Linked DNA regions of Homo sapiens. The protein of the gene in region 1 interacts with the protein of each later gene in a biochemical or structural test. Each region holds a gene or a part of one and is shown in the gene's direction. Other genes may lie near its edges. The genes, in order: TLN1, TPTE, FMO1, TPTE2, ARHGAP31 and ITGA1.

Region 1 (3,500 bases):
GAGTGTGCCCGGAGAGTCTCTGAGAAGGTGACGGTGCTCATCCCTGCAGATGGTGGGACTGCCTCCAAACTCTGTAGCCTTTGCCATCCTCCTCCAGCCCTCTCAGCCCTCTCCTGTTGTCACTTCTCCCAGGCATGGGCAACCTTTCCATTTCACATGGCACCTTCCACAGTCACCATGTGACATTCCCTACCCAGGTCTCCCACGTCCTGGCTGCGCTCCAGGCTGGGAATCGTGGCACCCAGGCCTGCATCACAGCAGCCAGCGCTGTGTCTGGTATCATTGCTGACCTCGACACCACCATCATGTTCGCCACTGCTGGCACGCTCAATCGTGAGGGTACTGAAACTTTCGCTGACCACCGGTAAGACAGGAACTGGGCCTAAGGGAGGCAGACAGGTCGGGGCACGGGGCTGGAAGAGGCAGGATAGCATTCGCTGGAATGGGGAAGACCTGGACCAGGCACCTTGGACGGGCTGGAGCGGGTAGGGGAGATCTGACTAAGCTGGGCCCTCCCTCAGGGAGGGCATCCTGAAGACTGCGAAGGTGCTGGTGGAGGACACCAAGGTCCTGGTGCAAAACGCAGCTGGGAGCCAGGAGAAGTTGGCGCAGGCTGCCCAGTCCTCCGTGGCGACCATCACCCGCCTCGCTGATGTGGTCAAGCTGGGTGCAGCCAGCCTGGGAGCTGAGGACCCTGAGACCCAGGTAGTGACCTGATGCCCCTAATTCCGGCTGGAATCACTTCCTGTCCCGCTTCTTCCTCCCATAGACCAGAGCCAACGCTTTCCCACACAGGTGGTACTAATCAACGCAGTGAAAGATGTAGCCAAAGCCCTGGGAGACCTCATCAGTGCAACGAAGGCTGCAGCTGGCAAAGTTGGAGATGACCCTGCTGTGTGGCAGCTAAAGAACTCTGCCAAGGTTGGAGAGAATGAGAGCAACATCAGGAGGGGCACTGGATTAACATACTTCCTCCTGTTCCTTAAAATCATTCCTCTTCACTCCTCTGATACCTCCAGGTGATGGTGACCAATGTGACATCATTGCTTAAGACAGTAAAAGCCGTGGAAGATGAGGCCACCAAAGGCACTCGGGCCCTGGAGGCAACCACAGAACACATACGGCAGGAGCTGGCGGTGAGTGAGAGTCTGGGGCATCAGTGACTAGGGTCAGAGAGAGGGATCCTGAAAGCCTGTGAACCTGTGCCACACATATACTCACAGCTGGAGTCACACACAGTCTTCTCTCTCATCTATCGCCAGACTTTTTTTTTGAGAAGGGTCTTGCTCTGTAGCCATCCTCCTCCAGCCTTCTCAGCCCTCTCCTCTTGTCATTTCTCCCAGGTGTGGGTGACCTTTCCATTTCACATGGCATCTTCCTCAGTCACCATGTGACTTCCCCTACCCCAGCTCTCCCACACCCTCCTTCTGGAGTGCAGTGGCGTGATCTCAGCTCACTACAACCTCCACCTCCCAGGTTCAAGTGCTTCTCATGCCTCAGCCTCCTGAGTCACTGGGAATACAGGTGCATACCATGCTGGCTAGTTTTTGTATTTTTAGTAGAGATGGGGTTTCACCATGTTGACCAGGCTGGTCTCGAACTCCTGGCCTCAAGTGATCCACCCGCCTTGGCCTCCCAAAGTGCTGGGATTACACTCATGAGCCACTGTGCCAGTGAGCTACATTCATGTCTGTCCCCTACCCACTTGTTTATTCCTTAGCATGTGACAACTGTATTTTTTCACCACCCTCCCACTTTCTCCAGTCACTAGTGGCCTCTTCTTAGTTGCTACATTCAGTGGCCACTTCTTGGCCTTCATCCTCTTTGAATATTTCGAAAGCATCTGACTGTGTTAACAAGCCTCTCTTTGAAATTCTTTCTTCTGCTGGGCATGGTGGCTCACGCCAGCACTTTGGGAGGCCAGCGGGTGTAATCCCAGCACTTTGGGAGGCTGAGGCGGGTGGATCACAAGGTCGGGAGTTCGAGACCAGCCTGGCCAATATGGTGAAACCCCGTCTCTACTAAAAATACAAAAATTAGCTGGGCGTGGTGGCACGCGCCTGTAGTCCCAGCTGCTTGGGAGGCTAAGGCAGGAGAATCGCTGGAACCCGGGAGGCAGAGGTTGCAGTGAGCCAAGATGGCGCCACTGCACTCCAGCCTGGGCAACAGAGTGAGACTCCATCTCAAAAAAAAACAAAAAAGAAAAAAAATGAAATTCTTTCTTCCCTTGGCCTAGATACTGGCTTTTCTCTTGTTTCTCGAACGTCATTGAATCACCTTTAACTTAGTAAATGTGGAGGCCTTCCCAGGGTTGTACAAATAGTCTTCCTTCTCTCTTCTCTTCTTTGGCAAGTTTAACCACTTTCATTATTATTCTGTAAGAAGCAGACATCCAGTTCTGAGTTGAGTTATTTTCAACTGCCTGTTTGACATCACCACCTAGATGCAGTGCCTCCGAACCATGACATGGTCCTCCTAATGGTGGGAACACCCTTGCAGTCATGAAGATTCCACCTCAGTCATCTTTGACTTCACCATCTTAGCCACCATATCCAGGCTGTTGCCACGTCCTTTCATTCCTCCTCCCTGGTTCCCTGTCCGCACTCTGGTTCACACTTCCATACTCTCCCGCAATTTGGCTGTGGCACCAGTTTTCTCCCTGGTCTCCCTGCTTCTGGTCCCTGCCACTCTCCTCTCTCCCTACTCATCTTTCTAATTTCTAAATGCATCTTTCTAAGGTTCTGTTTTCACTTTTACTTGAAGATGTCCAAGTTGGAACTCTTGACTTTCTGCCTCCCATACCTGGTCCTTTCCTGGTCTTCCCCCATCTCAGTAAATGGCACCTCTTAGTAACTCAGTTCCTAAAGCCAGAAACCTAGCTTCAATATATTAGACTTCTCTCTTTCTCTCATTCCCCACATCTAAGTTTTGCTAGTGCCCCTTCCAAATACAGCTCATTTTTTCTTTTTATCTCCTACCACTACCACACTGTCCAAACCATCATCAGTCCTTAACTGGATTTATGCAGTAGTCTCTATCCAGTCACCATGCTTCAACACTTGCCCCCTCCAATCCTCCTTTGTACACAGTAGCTAAAATTATGTTTTTAAAATATAAATTAGAGTCTGGACATGCTGGCTGATGCCTGTAAAATCCCAGCGCTTTGGAAGACTGAGATGGGAGGATCACTTGAGTGAGTTCAAGACTAGTCTGGACAACATAGCAAGATCCTGTCTCTACAAAAAATTTAAAGATTAGCTGGGCAAGGTGGCCCATGCCTGTCCCAGTTACTCATGAGTCTGAAGGCAGGAGGATCCCTTGAGCCCAGGGGTTCAAGTCTGCAGTGAACTATGATCACTCCAGTGCACTCCAGCCTGGGTGACAGAGCAAGAAATATATATATATTAGATTATGTCACTTCACTACTTAAAACCCATTAGTGATGGCTCTGCTTGCTTCTCCAGTCTCATCCTACTCTCTTCCTTTCTGTGCCCCATCCC
Region 2 (3,500 bases), on another chromosome or scaffold:
ATGTTGGACCGACGACACAAGACCTCAGACTTGTGTTATTCTAGCAGCTGAACACACCCCAGGCTCTTCTGCCCGGCAGTGGCTCTGGAAGCAGTCTGGTGTATAGGTAAGCATGTCCAGGGCTTATAGGGAGAAACTCCCAGAAATCCAGCTCTGCCTTGGGTTGCCCTGGTTCACGTCCAAAGATGTGCTTGGGCCACATCTCTGGAGCACAAGGTGGTAGACTGAGAGCTTTGATATTTCTACTCCTACTGCAGATGAGCTGGTATAACTCTGAAGGTATGGAATTTGCTGTTGTCTGTGACCCAGCAAATAAAAATAGAAAAATAATTCGATAGAAAAATAATAGAAATAGAAAAAATTTAAAAAACAAACCAAGCCTCATTCTATGACATTTTAGGCAGTGTGATAATATGCATATACTGGTCACTTTAATCTTTCCTACAGGGGCAGCTGGTTGCCCTAATGTTGGATGCTCTGTTCAAGGATGGTAAGCTAGTGTTCAGCTCAGGAAGCCACTCCACAGAGATGGCCACCAAAAGGGCTTCAGTGGTCCCATCTCAATTAACACCTGAAACATTGTTAATTATTACAGTGAAGGTCACAAATGGGTTTTTATTAGTGAAATTGGCGGCTTACAAAGCAGCATGATGGATGTTACAATTATATGACATTTTAAGATCTGTGAATCAACTAACGTGTTTTGGAGACAGCCCACCCTTGCATAAACAGGATAAAGGTGTATGAGGGTGGCCTGTAGTGTATATTTAGAGACGACACCCAAGGCTTGATCCTCATATGGTCCTATCTCCAGGAACGTTTAGGAAGATTTTGGCCTCTGAAACATTAGGAATCTGTTGAGAATGAAGCTTTCATGCTTGGAGTACCTAAAGTGCGGAAAGCTTACAGAAGCTTATATACTGTGTCTGCTTGCTACTGAATGTTTTGTTAAATGAATATCTGTATGTGTGGCAGATTTGGTCGGAGACCTACTTTTCATTATAACCTGGTAGCATGATTATAAAGGTGTAGCTAACCTTCAGCTAACTCAAACTTCTGTGGTTGCTCCTATCTACCAAAAAGCATTTAAGAATTCTGCATGACCACTTCAGTTTAGGACGGTTTGCAATTCTCACCTTCCTTAGGGGGCAATTTAGCTAGTTACTTATTCATGTCCCATGAGGGAAGTCATTCTGTGCCCCAAAGCAGCTTATCAAAGTATTATTTCAGACTTCATGCAGTACTCTCCCTGGAGTTCAGGTAACATCTATGGATGTCTCGTGCCCTTTTTGGAGATTAGTTTCCCAAGGAACTTGCTTAGCAATCCTGGCTTGTCACCTGAATCTGGAGTAATTTGAGTGTCTTCCAGTTCTCTTCCTCAGTAGAGGATGTCTGAAAAATCTAGTAATCATTTAATAAGGCTGCTTATGTCAGAAACTCAAATTCTTACCTTTTTGGTGTTTTGAACATTTTCCCCTGTTATGATTTATTAGTGTATTCTGCATAGACAATCCAATTATTCATCCTGCTGAAAAGTAGCGGATGCCTATAGATGCCTTTCTTTTTGTAAAAGGTTATTGTTTTTCCTGAGACCTGGATGAATTTCCAGGAGCCATTCAAGGACATGAGAACACCCACTTAGAACTTGAAAGGTTCCCCTCATGGCCCTCAGACCAGGCTAACGAGATGCGATAATTTGAACTCTGGCACTCCTTTCCTCACAGGCTGAAAGACTAGCACAATATTAATGTCTATCTGTGCTTAAAGGTTGGAGCTATTGATCAGAGTCCAAAATTAGTTTGTGTAGGGGAACTTTTCTTAAAGACATAAAAAGATACCATTTAATATATTGTTTCCAAAATGTGTTTCTCACACATTTCCACTGTGAGAAAGAGGTTCTGTGGTCAAATAGGTTAAGAAACCTCAGCACACTCTTAGAGAATCCCAGTTGTTATCAGCAGCAAAAAAATGTATGTGATCAGTTTCTTAAACTTATTTAAACGTTTGAAAAGTTAGAAAATTGTGGTGAAGAGCATTAATTCTTGAGTCTTGGGAGTGTATTACCTTGATGAGAATGTTTGTGTATTTGAAACTAAAAATGTGTATCCGTTTATATTGCCACATACTGATTTTTATGGCATAATATATGGTGTAGAGAGCAGGTTGTCTAAAAACCAATATTGGCAAAATGCTGAATATTCAGCATGGTTTTATGAAGTTGACAGATGTGGAGTGTATTTTGCATGTGTCTTAACTTACAGATGAGGAAATGAAGTAGCAGAGAGATTAAATTAGCCAAGCCAGGGGTTTCGGTGCTAGGAAGTCTTGATATTGTAAAACATAGCCATATAACTTTAAAAAAATGAATCCAGACAAAGAGAAAACAAAATCATTGTAAACACATAATCCACTTTAAGTTCACAAAATGTTTTAAACATAATTAAGGCTTGACTTATCTACTTGTTTATTTCCTACCAAGGATGACCGGGAACTAGCCATTGATATAGAAACATTCATTATTCTTACATTTTCTTTCTTTTTTCTGTGTCCCCTCTCTCTCTCTCTCTCTCTCTCTCACACACACACACAGACACACACACACACACAGTCTCAGAAGTACTAGTGCTGTATCCTGAAATTGTTTCTTTAGTTCTTGTCAAAATTCCTCCGATTTTATTTTTTGTGTCCTGAAATACTGTTGAGATTAACATCCTCATTGCCTTCCAAAATATCTGACTTTATTTTTTGTATGTGCTTTTTACTCTTTGGTAGAGTTATGGATTCACTACCAGATTCTACTGTATGCTCTTGACAACTATGACCACAATGGGTGAGTTGACTGATCTAAGTGGTGAAAAATACTGGGAGCATCAATGGCAATAACAGCTTTCTATCAGAGACTTTAAGCATCTTTGGTAACATTGTTTTTGAACCAGAGTGGAAAAAATAAGATCAGGTCAGAAGAAGGATGCTTGGTACTCAAAGATTGTTTGTGACTCTAAGTAATTAGCAGCCAAAACCTTAGGAAACTATCAGAATGCCTGTGTATGAGACTCTCTTCAAGAGTGGTCCAAGAGAGGAGAGAATCCTACTTGGAGAAAGAAGGTGGTAGCATTGGACAGGCAGCAGAGGAGCCCTCAGCAGCAAGAAAGGAGCTAAGAGACCCTGTATCTGTCCCTCACCCTTCAGAGCTGGTGCCCCAAACTCAAAGCCATCATCACATTGGATGGAGCCCCTGCCTCAGGTTTAGTCACTTGATCCTATTTGAGGAGAAGCAAAGATATCTGTGACTCATGAAGAGCATGAAGGTGGTGGAGGGACTTGATAATTAGGAAATCAAAATGGGCAAGAATAATGTGTGCCTACAAATGGGACATGAATTTGAAGGAAATTTAAGTTAAATTTGCTGCCACACATGATGATCAGGTTCAGTAATAATTGTATTTAAATCTTGATTCATTAAACTTTTTTGAGAGTCCTAAACAATTTTTATTACCAAC
Region 3 (3,484 bases), on another chromosome or scaffold:
GAGCATACAACCAGTCAGCTCAGGCTGCTAACATTTTTGCCAGAAGGATCAATGAGTAGCTGGTACTAGACGTGAAAGGAGAGCCATAGTAAAGCATCTTTATCCATAAGTCAACAGCTAGACCTAAACTTAAGTTGCATTTGAGGTTTTTATTTTAATCCTACAGGTGTAAATAAGTTACCACCACCAAGTGTCATGATAGAGGAAATTAATGCAAGGAAAGAAAACAAGCCCAGTTGGTAAGTTAACTACTTAATGCACCCTTTTTAAATTATAACTGAAATTGGTAAAAAAAAAAAAAAAAAAAAAAAAAAAAAAAAGGAAATGAAAAAGAAAAAAAAACAATAGCAGAGAGATGAAAGTTACATTGGAGAAAAAAAGAAGCATCTGAGACTTACAAGAAAAATACTAGGAGAGCCTGTTTAAGAAGAGAGAAGGGAAAGGGGAATTTAGAATTTTTAATGTCCCCAAAGTCATCACTTCAGCCCATGGTTTTCTAGTATCACATAGAGTTTGGATTCCAAATCAAGTACTACATAATTAACCCTAATCTACCAGGTACATTATTCCATATCTTATCCATAATCAACAGGCAAGCAGTTGTACCTATTTACTCTGACACTAGAAGTGTCTGCTCATTCATTCACTGAACAAGTCTCTATCAGCTCTATTGTTTTTATTCGGAGTGTGGCTTTTGCTCTTCATTTATAATTGGCTGGAAAAAAGGAAGAAGAAAAACAAAATTTTGTAGCATGTGAAAAAATCATATGAAATGGAAACCATACTGGCCATAAATAAAATTTTATTAGAACACAGCCATGGTTATTCATTTACATATTGTCAATGGCTGTTTTTGTGTTACAGTACCAAAGTTGTTTAGCAGTTGAGATAGAAACTGTAATGTGGCTCTCAAAGCCTGAACATTTACTGTCTGGCCTTTTTCAGAATAAAGTTTATTGAGCACTTCTCTATGGGAAAGGTTTTCACTTATGCTGTGCTCTGTGGCTACCACTCAAGGCTAGAGACAATGGAAGACTGATGGCCAGCAAAGTAAAGAGTCTTGGCCCTCCCCTCTCACTCTCAATCCAACCAAAACATTTCTGATTGTTTTGTGGTTTGATAAAACCACTTTGTTTTATCTGTTCATCTGTTTCTGCGTTTGATATACATTTTCACTTGAAATAAAGGTTCTGTGGCAAAAAAAAAAAAACAAAAAACAGCAAGTTTTAAAATCATTGCATCTAAGGAACTTATTATCACTCTCTTGTTCATATATATTCCCAAACTTCAAGGGTTGATCTATCCTTGTCAAGGTACCAAATTCCAAAACAATAATAGCATTTTAGATGTCTCTTCTTTATCCTCAACCTGGGATATGATTTGATCTTCATTATGGAACTCCAGTGTAATAGATAACTAATTAGAACTGCTATAAAATGAAAATCTTCTTGTCACGCATGTCAGCAAACAATTTTAGGGGCCAGGTGCAGTGGATCATGCCTGTAATCCCAGCACTTTGGGAGGCTAAGGCAAGAGGATCATTTGAGCTCAGGACTTTGAGACCAGCCTGGATGACATAGCAAGCCCCCATCCCTACAAAAAAAATAAAAGTTATTTAGGCATGGTGGCTCATGCTTGTAGTCCCACCTATTCCTAAGCCAGGAGGATCGCTTGAGCCAAGGAGTTCAAGGTTGCAGTGAGCTATGATCATGCCACTGCACTCCAGCCTAGGTGACAGAGCAAGACCTTGTAAAAAAAAAAAAAAAGAAAAAAGAAAAAAAGAAAAGGAAAAGAAAAATTAATTAATTAATTAAAGCCTAATACCAGCATTTCAGGGAATTTTACCCTATAGATTTTTGTGGCTTTTCACATTATATAAATCATTGGATTTGTTATTACTGAATAATGGAATTTTATAAAGATTTAGAAATTTTAAAATATATTTTCCTCTAGAAATTGCTAATTATTTCACAAAAGAACTAAGATGCATTATGAGCACTCAGAGCACCCATTAAAAGCCATATGTATAAAGTATCTTTTGAAGGGACTCATCTTGATTTAAGAAACAGAAGGAGACCGTTAGATAGGTAGGGAAATAAAGGGGAAAATGCAGAAACCATCCCAAATTCTGCAGCAGTATTTGTTTGCTTTGGGCACTTGTACTTGTTCTAAGATTATCAGTTTTTTTGTCTTCACCTTTTCCCCCAATCTTCCTTTTATAAAGGTTTGGCTTGTGCTACTGCAAGGCTTTACAATCAGATTATATCACATACATAGATGAACTCCTGACCTATATCAATGCAAAACCCAACCTGTTCTCTATGCTCCTAACGGATCCACATCTGGCTCTGACCGTCTTCTTTGGCCCATGCTCACCATACCAGTTCCGCTTGACTGGCCCAGGAAAATGGGAAGGAGCCAGAAATGCCATCATGACCCAGTGGGACCGAACATTCAAGGTCATCAAAGCTCGAGTTGTACAAGAGTCTCCATCTCCCTTTGAAAGTTTTCTTAAAGTCTTTAGCTTTCTGGCTTTGCTTGTGGCTATTTTTCTGATTTTCCTATAAGTAAAAGATCTCCTAAATGGAAGATGCACAGAGTAGATTTACAATGCTCCAATTCCTCTCTTACAGCAATATTGCCTTCACAGTTATAAACTGTATTCAAATAGTAAAGGCCACCCTCTCGCTTCCCTGGCTGGCCCCAGGGCTACCACTGGTATTCCTGAGCCTCTCCCAGCTCCACTTCTAATGCTAGAGAATGATAACTAAGACTTCTGTGCATTTGAAGGTTGTTGGAAAGTTACAGGTTCATTTTAGAAAGAAAGCTGTTCTTGACAGCACTCTGAGCCATCATACCTCTTTCCCATATAAACTATTTTCACAGATCTCAACTAAAACCCCTTACTTCACAAATGATTGTGTTGTGCTGAAATGGTGCTCTTATAGTACTGGCTTATTAAAAGTAAAAAATAAACCTAAAAATTGATTGTTTTAAGTGATCTTTTGTTCTCTTATTAAAGATTGGGAAAAGGGAGAAAAAGATGAGGATTCTATGAATAAAGCTCATAAAAGGATAGGGGGTTCAATGAGTTACTTTGAGAGTTTCCCAAAGGACTGTACCTGCCTGGGACTGTTCATTCCTCCAGAACACTCTTTATAACAAAGCTGTTACTCCAGCTGGCCTCCCAAAGACCCAAATCAGATTCCACAGAAAACCACCACCTCCACGGGCTCTTAGAACCAGCCTCCAGCAGCCAAAGGAAAAAGCCTACCTGCTTAGATCCTCCTTCACAACCCTGCTGTAAGAGGCAAATGGAGCTGCCTCCTTTTAAAGAGTCAATGAGAACCAACCAAATTCAATTGGAATTCATTAGATAAAGAGCACAGCCAAGAAGCTTTTAATGGAGAGAAAGCAGGGAGAGGAAAAAAGGGAAAGAAAAAGAGGAACAAAAGCAAACATCGTGTCAAAAGCAGCAGTTTCA
Region 4 (3,500 bases), on another chromosome or scaffold:
TTTTATTGTTTGAAAACTTCCCATGAATGTTATGTTTTTCCCTTAGTCTACTCTAGAAAATACATTTTAAATAATTCATGATAGTAGAATTCTTAATGGGGATGAGTCAGTAGTTTGTGGTCTTTAAATATTCCTGTCTCTTCTTGCAGAGGGAAATGAACTTTTTTTTTTTTTTTTTTATATTACAGGAGACAGCAGTATTTTTCTGACTTATTTAACATTTTAGATACTGCCATTATTGTGATTCCTCTGCTGGTTGATGTCATTTACATTTTTTTTGACATTAAGTTGCTTAGGAATATTCCCAGGTATGAAACATAAGACTTACCTCTCTTAAAGTTTTTCATTACTTTTAGCATTTTCTGTGGCTTTTATTCTATATAATCTTTTCAACTTCAAATGTTCTCATCTATACCAAATACATTGCTTTAAAATGAAATGTTTGGGTAAATGCCCACATACTTTGAAACTAAAAGATTGTGATATTTAGGGACCAGTGAAGAATATACACGCTAAGTACCATTAATGGAATAAAGAAGATGGCAGTACCCAAAGAAGGACTTTTACTCTTGTACTAACTTTAACTTCTCTACATTTTGAAGTTCTCATCGAATTCCCATTTGTATCATTTTTTGGCCTTTTGGCTAAGATCAAGTATAATATTCTTATCAGTTTAATATCTGCTATATCAAAAAAACTTATATTGAAAACAATTCCCCTCTGTGCTTCAACTACAAATCCCTTACACATAATGTTCTGTCTGGATTTTTCCTACAGCCAAGAGGGAATTTATTTGAGCATATGCAAAATTTGAGTGATTTCAATCATGAGTTTCTAAAAAATAGCAAACAGAACAGAAACTAGGAGATGACACATGTAGCAACACAATAGTAGAGTTTTGCAGTATAGTTGTGGTAGAAACAAAGAAAGCTTAGGCAAAGTTAGAACTGTTAGGGATTAGGAAAACTTAACAGTGTATGAGGCCCTGGTGACTCTTTTTCTTTTTTTACTGTGACAATGAGGAAAATGAAAGAGCAAATGTATACTGGGATGTAGATGGTGGCTTCCTAAGCTTGTTCATGGGTCAAATAGCTGATTTCTTTTTGTACCCTAGCTTCCCTGGACTACAGCTCAGGCCCCAACTAAAAGCATGTTAAGTGATTGGCTTTTGGAGTTATTTGAAAATAACCTCAGCCAATGTGGTTCTCTGACTAGAAACCTCAGCATCACTTGACAGCTTGCTAGAAATATAAGAAGAAAAATACCTTAGGCCCCACCCTGGACCCACTGAATCAGTATCTCTGGGACCCAGCAATCTGCAGCTTAACAAGCTTTTCCAGGTGGCTCTTATTGACATGTGCCCAAATCAGAGAAGCACTAGTCCAGACCATCAGTTCTCTGCTTTGGTGGTTCTGATGGCAGGAGAGATACCAGCTAGCACACTTTGGAAGTATCTCAATCTGTTGCCTGCCTGATGTGCATTAGCAGCTGTAGTGAACATCTGTTACTCATGGGAATAACAAAGATGAACAAGAATAATCGATTTGTTTTGATGTGGAAAAATTGAAAATGCTAGTCTTAAATCCCAAAATTAAATTTACAAATGCTAAGAGTCTATCGTATCACTATTTCTCTAGACCAGAATTTCTCAGCCTCAGCATTACCAACATTTTGGGCCAGATCATTGTCATAAGAGGGTGGTGAGCAGTTATATTAATTGTAGGGTGTTTAGCAAAATTCCTGGCCTCTATTCACTAGATGTAAGTAACACACAGACACAAACACACATGCACACACGCAAGTTGTGAAAACCTAAATGCCTCCAGACATTGCCAAATATCCCCCAGGTAGGTAATTGGGGAGAGGAGGGAAAATTGCCTCTGGTTAACAACTGCTGCTCTAGACATAGTTTATATTGATAAAATTCTGTTTCTGAAGCAAAAATGGATCTTTTAAATTTATTGTTAGATGGACACATTTAGTTCGACTTCTACGACTTATTATTCTGATAAGAATTTTTCATCTGCTTCATCAAAAAAGACAACTTGAAAAGCTGATGAGAAGGCTGGTAAGTGGGCAAAACATGCTTATGATTCAGAAAAATATTTTGTGTTTTGGGACCCATTGGCAAGGGTTGATATCTATACTGTATAATGTTTTTTATTTTTATGTTGATGAATGTTTCACAAACTAATGATGATTTTAAACTCTCAGGTTTCAGAAAACAAAAGGCGATACACAAGGGATGGATTTGACCTAGACCTCACTTACGTTACAGGTTTGTGACACTTAATGGTTGATTTACTTGTATTACTTCACTTTTTCTTGTAATTGTATTTTTTTGCCTCATCTAAGACACATTCATTCAAAATATTCTTTATTCTTGAGAATATATGCCACTGTGATAGTGTGACATATTTGTGGTTTAGCCCTGGCAATGGAAGATCTGCATGTCTTCTCAATTCAGGACTACTCAGTTGCAGCATAGGAACTTGAATGGATTTTCAGCTGACTCCATTTGAGTTTCAATTTATTAACCTCTTGTAGTTATTTCTGAGTCCCAAGGATCCCACAGAGACCTCTTCTCATCCTAGAACCCCAGAGAATGAGGTCAGTGTTTTGTAGATCTCAGGTTTTCTGAGTCAGAGGGCTGCAAAGCACCTTGGGAGTTCCCACCGTCACTGGTGCCCAGAAATCTTGGATTTTCTCTGGTATTTAAGATAAGAAATAAATTCTAAGAACAGGGGGAACTTCAGACTGAGGCCATCATAAGTACATGGCATACAGTTAGAACTAGTGGAGACTTAAGAACTCCATGCCAGTTTAATGGTCATTGTGTTGGATAATTTAATATGTTATTTGATTATCCTGAGTATTAGCTCTTTTCTGTCAACCTCAATTTTAAAAGTTTTTTTTCTGTGAAAATGGAGTCTGATCATGTATAAATTAATTTTTTTTGTGTTATATGAAATCTATAATAATGTTTGTAATAGTGATGATTTTGACTTTCAGAACGTATTATTGCTATGTCATTTCCATCTTCTGGAAGGCAGTCTTTCTATAGAAATCCAATTGAGGTAAGGGTCTTTATCTGACAAATACTCATTTCTCAGTGAATGTAGACTGTGTAGTCATAAGTTTAATATTGACCCAGATATGGCAGTATTCTTTTAAAAATGTACTCTTTCAAGTAAAAAAATCATAATGGATTGATACCAGTTACAATTGTGCCAGTGGTTACAAACCACCCCAAAACTTACTGGCTTATAACAGCAACTATTTATTTGGCTCATGATACTGTGGTTTGTGAATTTGGTATGGGCTTAACTGTCCAATTCAGGTGCTTGCAGAAAGGATTTCCTGTCTCAACTAAGCTCATTCATGTATCTGTGGGCAGCTACTGGGTCATCTGAGGACTGGCTAGTCTAAAATGGCTTGGCTACCCTCAACTGACAGAGCCACTGCATGCTACGTGCACCCCCCCGAGGCCCAAGGCCCAT
Region 5 (2,416 bases), on another chromosome or scaffold:
TTCTCTTTCTTCAGCCTTTTGACCACTTATTAATTAGTCCATTTGCTAGAAGAGTGGTCAAGGGAAAAACGAGAGATGAAATTTAGTTAAGTCTATGTGAGCAAGTGAGAGAAGGTTAGGTAAGGGGAGAGGATGGAATGCTTGCCTCCAATGAACTTTGGAGCTTGTATGTGAGTCAGATTGCTCCCCTATTGCTATTATCTATTACTCTTGAGAGCTGGCTGTCCTTTGAAAGAAAGAAGTAATGTTCTTTGAAAGAAAGAAAAATCTCTTGCTGTGTCAAACCTCAAAATGTTGCTATTGGGGTTAGAAGGCCTCCTCTTTATGCTTTTTAATGCTCTTTCAAACGTGTTCTTTTAGACCAGTTTTCTAATAAGCTTTGTAAAATGTACTATCCAAATTAGAAGCGGATTTGGAAATGCAAACTAACGTGCACTTAGATATCCAAGTGGGTGAGCTTAGCCACTCTTACCCATGCTCTTTCCCTGGAATCCCTGGAGACCTGTCCAAGATGATTTCCATATACCAGCATAGAAAATCAGAATCAAGAGCAAACTCTGAGACTGGCACAATCCAAGAAGATTTCCTGGCTCTGGCTTTTAGTAATTTGGGACTCCAACTGCCACTGTACTGGACTGTAATTTATAAATCCAGTAGCTACGCAGGGTGGAGGCTGGGCTGAGGATTACCATAATGAAATGTACTAAATCTTCATTTAGGTATGCAATTGTGAAGTGAAGGCATCTGCTTTCTTTACAGTATCAGAGTCCAAGAACAGGATGTCACCATAGATAAAAGCCTCATACAAAGGCAGAACTACACTCCAAATTTAATGTGTTTAAATTGGTGGGGCACCAGCAGAAAATATTCTAGCTCAGCTTTACTCTTCTTCCACACTAGGCTGGGCCCAGCAATACAGGAGAGGATGAAGGGAGGAGCTCCAGGAGGCGAGGGAAGAGCCCTAGCAGGGCGGCCATCACAACCACTCACTGAGAGTTGCCCTTCTTAAAAATGTATTTTATTTTAGCCAGTGGGTCCCTTCCTTTCTCCTTTCCTCTCTACTGCTCAAGAACAGATTTGAGGCCAGGTGCGGTGCCTCACATCTGTAATCCCAACACTTTGGGAGGCTGAGATGGGTGGATTGCTTGAGCCCAGGAGTTCAAGACCAGCCTGGGCAACACAGCGAGACCCCATCTCTTAAAAAATAACAGACTTGAGGAACCCCTCTCCCTTCCATAATTCCCCTCATCCACCGCCCACTCCAGGCACTCACTCAAACTTGCTCTTCAACTCTGTATACAAGCAGAAGCAATAAACCAATCTGATTTTCTTTTCAATTATTTATAACTTTCAATGGTTCTTTCCTTTCCAGCTGGCGAGAGAAAGGAGAACTAATATACCTGCTGGCAGATTTTTGGTGCTGCCCAAAAAAGGACTTCACAGGGCATCTCTTCTCAGGTTCAAGCCTGGCTGAATTCTGCCCAGAAGCTCAGTCATTGCAGAAATTTCTCTAAGGGCTGATAGTACCTCTGGGTAGGCGTCACAACCAAGGCTGGTTCTGGGCTTAGTGGGGGCTGAGATGAAGTTACCTCCTCCAATGAGAAATTGGGAGCTGATGCCCTGCAACAGATATATATTCCTCTCTCTCTCTGTCTCTCTATCTCTCTCCTCCCTCTCCCTCCCTCCCTCCCCGCCAATAAGCCTTACAAACAGTTTTGAAATCTTGTTCTGTACCTTTTAAGCCAGTGTCTGTGGCGAGGGTGACTGGCAAGTCAGCTGATGAGTTCTGCCTTCTGAGAGCACTGAGTGAGCAAGGCCTTTCATCAGTGTTTTGGCCTTCTCATTGGGTGAGGAAGACATTGAACCAACAGCCAACGAGATATGAACCTGTAAGAAAAAAGTCCTAGAATATAGTATTTTTCCCCAGGCCAGCAAAGTGAAGAAATACAGTGGTGACAGATGAGAAAGGCCATGTTCAAGAGATCTGAAAAGTACATTCCTGCCTTATCAGAAAATGTGTCAGACAGGTTTTATGTCAGCCTCAGTGCTCCTGCGGTGTCGACGCTCTGATAAGGACCATGTTCCAGTTAGAATGCGAGGGAGGGAAAGAGCTGCACTTTGCTTCACCATCAGAACTCTGAGCCAAATAATGAATATGTAAACTATTTTATGATTATTTTAAATGTTTGTTTGGTAACATTTATAAGATCTATTTTTATTTGGGGATAGACTGAGAAGCCACCATTTACATATTAACAAGTGACTTCAGTTCTAAGGGTTGAGATGCCTGTGTGGATTTATAAAATGGTTGCAAGATCTTTTAGACTCTGACATTTATAGCATCACCTTCAGGAACACAGTTCTGGGGATGTCATCATGAGACACACTGACAGCTGTGGAGATAGTCCCTACTCTC
Region 6 (3,500 bases), on another chromosome or scaffold:
GCGCGATGGCTCACGCCTGTAATCCCAGCACTTTGGGAGGCCGAGGCAGGCAGATCATGAGGTCAAGAGATAGAGACCATCCTGGCCAACATGGTGAAACCCCGTCTCTACTGAAAATACAAAAATTAGCTGGGCATGGTGGTGCATGCCTGTAGTCCCAGCTACCCAGGAGGCTGAGGCAGGAGAATCACTTGAACCCGGGTGGCGGAGGTTGCAGTGAGCGGAGATCACGCCACTGCACTCCAGCCTGGTGACAGAGTGAGACTGTCTCAAAAAAAAAAAAGAAAAGAAAAAAAAAGAAACAGCAATTTAATAAATGTCATTTTTTGACATTGAATATTAATAGGTCAATGAGAAAATATTTCTTAATTATATTAGTTGTGTGCCCAGCATTGCCAATATACTATTAAATTTAATTCTATCCAAAGGATTAATATTTGCTACCTAAATTAAAATAGTTAATTGTGTTATGTTTTGTGTTTTCTCAACAGATTGGATTCTTCAAAAGACCACTGAAAAAGAAAATGGAGAAATGAAATATTTTATGAAAGAAAATAATAACAATTATTCAATAATCTATCCTCAGGTTTGCCTCAAATATGTGACAAGAAATGTATAATTCATGACATAGTCATGTAACTATGTAATCCATCAGGGATTCATTACTTGGAAAATGACAGGTCATGCATTATCCAAAAACAATACCAAAAAGACATATTTTATAAAATGACAAAAAATATTTTACATAATTACTCATTTTTGTTGAGTAAGCAAAATTACAAAGTGTTTTTAAAAAAACCTGTACAAATATGTTTATGTATTAAATCACCATCCAAAATATTTAAGGAATATATAAAAAGATTTTTATGATCATAGAAACATCTATTTTCAAAACAATATAAATTAAGCTTTTCCCCTTGATTCCTGTTGGATATCCATGTTCAGCATGACAGTCAGCACTCGTAAATGCCAAGAAAAGAATTACCTGAAAAAGATCATTTCTCCCTATTCAAATGAGAATATTTTCCCTTGGTAGAATCCATATACAATATGGATTGAAAATTAAGTCACCAAGAATACATTTAGCATCTTTGTGTTGGGTTCTATACCTAAAAATTTTCCCTCCCTGCCCAAGGTGATTGGAAAGTACTGCAATTGAGCTAAAATTTTATCTAGGATGGAAAATCAGGATAGACTCGTTTAAAAACAAGTATATTAAATGGGTTAAATTAAGCTTTTACAGAACATGCTTAATTTTGATATTGAGCTCTAAATGCAAAACTCTTTTATACTGAAAAAACACTTAAAGTAGTTTTGTGTGGCATCACAGTGATTTGTCATGAAAAGCCATATATGGGGGACATGCTAAAATGGCTTCTGAATGAAATACGACAGCAGAGAAAGATGCCACTGAAATGCTGAAATTATCTTTGCTGAGCAGCTTTTGAATGCTAAGGGTTCCAGTATGTGACCCAAAGAAAGAGTTGTCTCAACTCCTTGGTACAGGGTTCATTCAAACCCCCAAGCTGTGAGAGTGTGTTTATTTTTAATTTTTTAAAAGGTATTTAATTTCCAACCACACTTCTTATTTTTTTGAAAAGACAATTTTCCATTTCAGTATTACATTTTACCAAGAAGTCACTGCTTTTTAGGTGTGTTGCATCAATATTTAAATAAAATCCCAGAAATGTATTTTAAAGAATTTCAGGTTTGAAAACTCAAACCAACAGGAAGATATCACACCTTTGTATGTGCTTCTTTGTTCTTGAAGTAGTCATTATGGTTCATTGGAATCTACTGTAGCATAAGCTCCTAGGTTGCTCCATTTCTTAGGAAAATAGCAATGAATGAATGTATAGTAGCTGCATGTGTGAACTACTGCTGTAAAGTTTGCTGACATTTCTGCAACAACATTTCTCCATCTGATTTACCAGAACCTGTAACAAGACCAGAACATGTATTCATCCAGAAACTCCTGGGCTCTGCTTTGTTCAAAGAGGAGCAAATCCACATAGAAATTAAATGTTATAAATTTATTTTTTTAAACTAATTTCCAAAGAATTTAGCTGAAGACTCAGAGTCAGCCTACCTCTTGACTCTCCACATCCGCATCTAAGATCCTGAAGGCCAAAGGAATGCGCCTGTGGGATGCCAAAGCCATCAGTAGCTGGAAGAAAGAATACCTCTTTCTAGAGGTTTGGTGTCCTCTTGCTGGCCTGTCATTATTTGGAAATACGCGCTTTTGGAATTTCCTTCATTTTCGCTATTTCCAGGTTCAGAAATCATACCTACCACTTGTTCTTTCTTTGCCCAGTAAAACTCAGGGTTTCTCTTATTCAGAGTTACCATGTTGCACACCCCCAGTGCTCAGCCTGCCCAGAAGCCCTTCTCTGATCTCAGCAAGATCTTAGTAGTAAAGCTAACGGATCCATTGAAATTCATACTCAGCATCTGTGACTACTAGACAAAGCCCATTTACTGAACCATAAGTGTGCACTTTTAAACTAAATTGTTAACTGAAAGGGAAAAAATAGAAATGAGGGCATTTTGAAGTTTTTAGAAAAGAGAGGAAGAGCTGTTGGCCAGATCAAAGAGATACTTATAAGCCCGGCACAATTTTTAACATAAGTCATTCCTGGCTATTAAGTAAAATATTTCATGAACCAGAAGTCCTGTTTCTCTAATATTATAATTTGTTGAGGTTTGTGTGTGTGTGTGTGTGCATGTGCAGACACATGTACACATATAAATTGAATACAAAAATAGCTCTATAACACCAAAAAACAGAGTTTACAGAAAATAAACACAAAAGCTATATCTGCAAGACAAGTTTGATTCATCTAGTTTCATATAGTTTCATATAGTTTCATTTTTATTAATATTTAGGTTTAACTTATAGTTCTGCAATTATTTAAAAAACAAGTACAGAGCGTTTGATTAAAAAAAGTCAACAAATGTTTCAAAACAGCTTTGTACAAATGTTATAAAACATATTTAATGATTAAGAAATGTACTAGACTCTATCATTTACTTTTAAAACATTTAATTAGAAAAACAGGTGATATTTAAGACTATTTATAAACTTATTGGCCAAATTGCCAAAAAGTTTCTTTTTCTCTAACTTTGGTATTCTAAATAATTGATTATTGCTCCCATTGTAAACTGAACCATGTATGCACTCTCTTTTCTGACCAAACTACAATGGTATATTGGTAAATTATTTAACAACACACTGTCCAGGAGGGAAAAAAAAAACAGTCTCTGATTTGTATCATTTGCCAATTTCCATGGTCCAAATATTCTCTCTCCATTTTCAAACTACCAAAGTGACCCTAATCAGCTTACAAAATTCCTGGAAATGTATCTGCCACCTCTTACCAACCAGTGTGAGCTGACTTCAGCACACCACTGAGACAGATTACACGATAGACAGATAGATAGATAGATAGATAGATAGATAGATAGATAGATAGATAGATATTGATAGAGAACATGTTGTG

The links.
Region 2: the proteins of TLN1 (region 1) and TPTE interact in a test that uses a peptide from one of them, tested with the Homo sapiens proteins (one study listed by BioGRID and IntAct).
Region 3: the proteins of TLN1 (region 1) and FMO1 interact in a test that uses a peptide from one of them, tested with the Homo sapiens proteins (one large-scale study listed by BioGRID and IntAct).
Region 4: the proteins of TLN1 (region 1) and TPTE2 interact in a surface display test, tested with the Homo sapiens proteins (one large-scale study listed by IntAct).
Region 5: the proteins of TLN1 (region 1) and ARHGAP31 interact in a test that uses a peptide from one of them, tested with the Homo sapiens proteins (one large-scale study listed by BioGRID and IntAct).
Region 6: the proteins of TLN1 (region 1) and ITGA1 form a complex in vitro, tested with the Homo sapiens proteins (one study listed by BioGRID).

Annotation. Positions count from the first base shown.
Region 1 is NC_000009.12:35,701,196-35,704,695, reverse strand, and holds part of TLN1 (talin-1), read left to right. Parts: coding exon 1-27; intron 28-197; coding exon 198-364; intron 365-521; coding exon 522-705; intron 706-795; coding exon 796-921; intron 922-1,019; coding exon 1,020-1,136; intron 1,137-3,500. UniProt on the Homo sapiens protein: High molecular weight cytoskeletal protein concentrated at regions of cell-matrix and cell-cell contacts. Involved in connections of major cytoskeletal structures to the plasma membrane.
Region 2 is NC_000021.9:10,524,583-10,528,082, forward strand, and holds part of TPTE (putative tyrosine-protein phosphatase TPTE), read left to right. Parts: 5' UTR 1-106; intron 107-2,772; 5' UTR 2,773-2,830; intron 2,831-3,500.
Region 3 is NC_000001.11:171,282,978-171,286,461, forward strand, and holds the end of FMO1 (flavin-containing monooxygenase 1), read left to right. Parts: intron 1-166; coding exon 167-239; intron 240-945; coding exon of another isoform or gene 946-946; exon of another isoform or gene 947-1,520; intron 1,521-2,224; coding exon 2,225-2,567; 3' UTR 2,568-2,984; downstream 2,985-3,484. UniProt on the Homo sapiens protein: Broad spectrum monooxygenase that catalyzes the oxygenation of a wide variety of nitrogen- and sulfur-containing compounds including xenobiotics.
Region 4 is NC_000013.11:19,464,033-19,467,532, reverse strand, and holds part of TPTE2 (phosphatidylinositol 3,4,5-trisphosphate 3-phosphatase TPTE2), read left to right. Parts: intron 1-188; coding exon 189-308; intron 309-624; exon of another isoform or gene 625-721; intron 722-1,968; coding exon 1,969-2,068; intron 2,069-2,214; coding exon 2,215-2,278; intron 2,279-3,012; coding exon 3,013-3,077; intron 3,078-3,500. UniProt on the Homo sapiens protein: Acts as a lipid phosphatase, removing the phosphate in the D3 position of the inositol ring from phosphatidylinositol 3,4,5-trisphosphate.
Region 5 is NC_000003.12:119,416,383-119,418,798, forward strand, and holds part of ARHGAP31 (rho GTPase-activating protein 31), read left to right. Parts: 3' UTR 1-2,416. UniProt on the Homo sapiens protein: Functions as a GTPase-activating protein (GAP) for RAC1 and CDC42. Required for cell spreading, polarized lamellipodia formation and cell migration.
Region 6 is NC_000005.10:52,951,916-52,955,415, forward strand, and holds part of ITGA1 (integrin alpha-1 precursor), read left to right. Parts: intron 1-491; coding exon 492-536; 3' UTR 537-3,500. UniProt on the Homo sapiens protein: Integrin alpha-1/beta-1 is a receptor for laminin and collagen. It recognizes the proline-hydroxylated sequence G-F-P-G-E-R in collagen. Involved in anchorage-dependent, negative regulation of EGF-stimulated cell growth.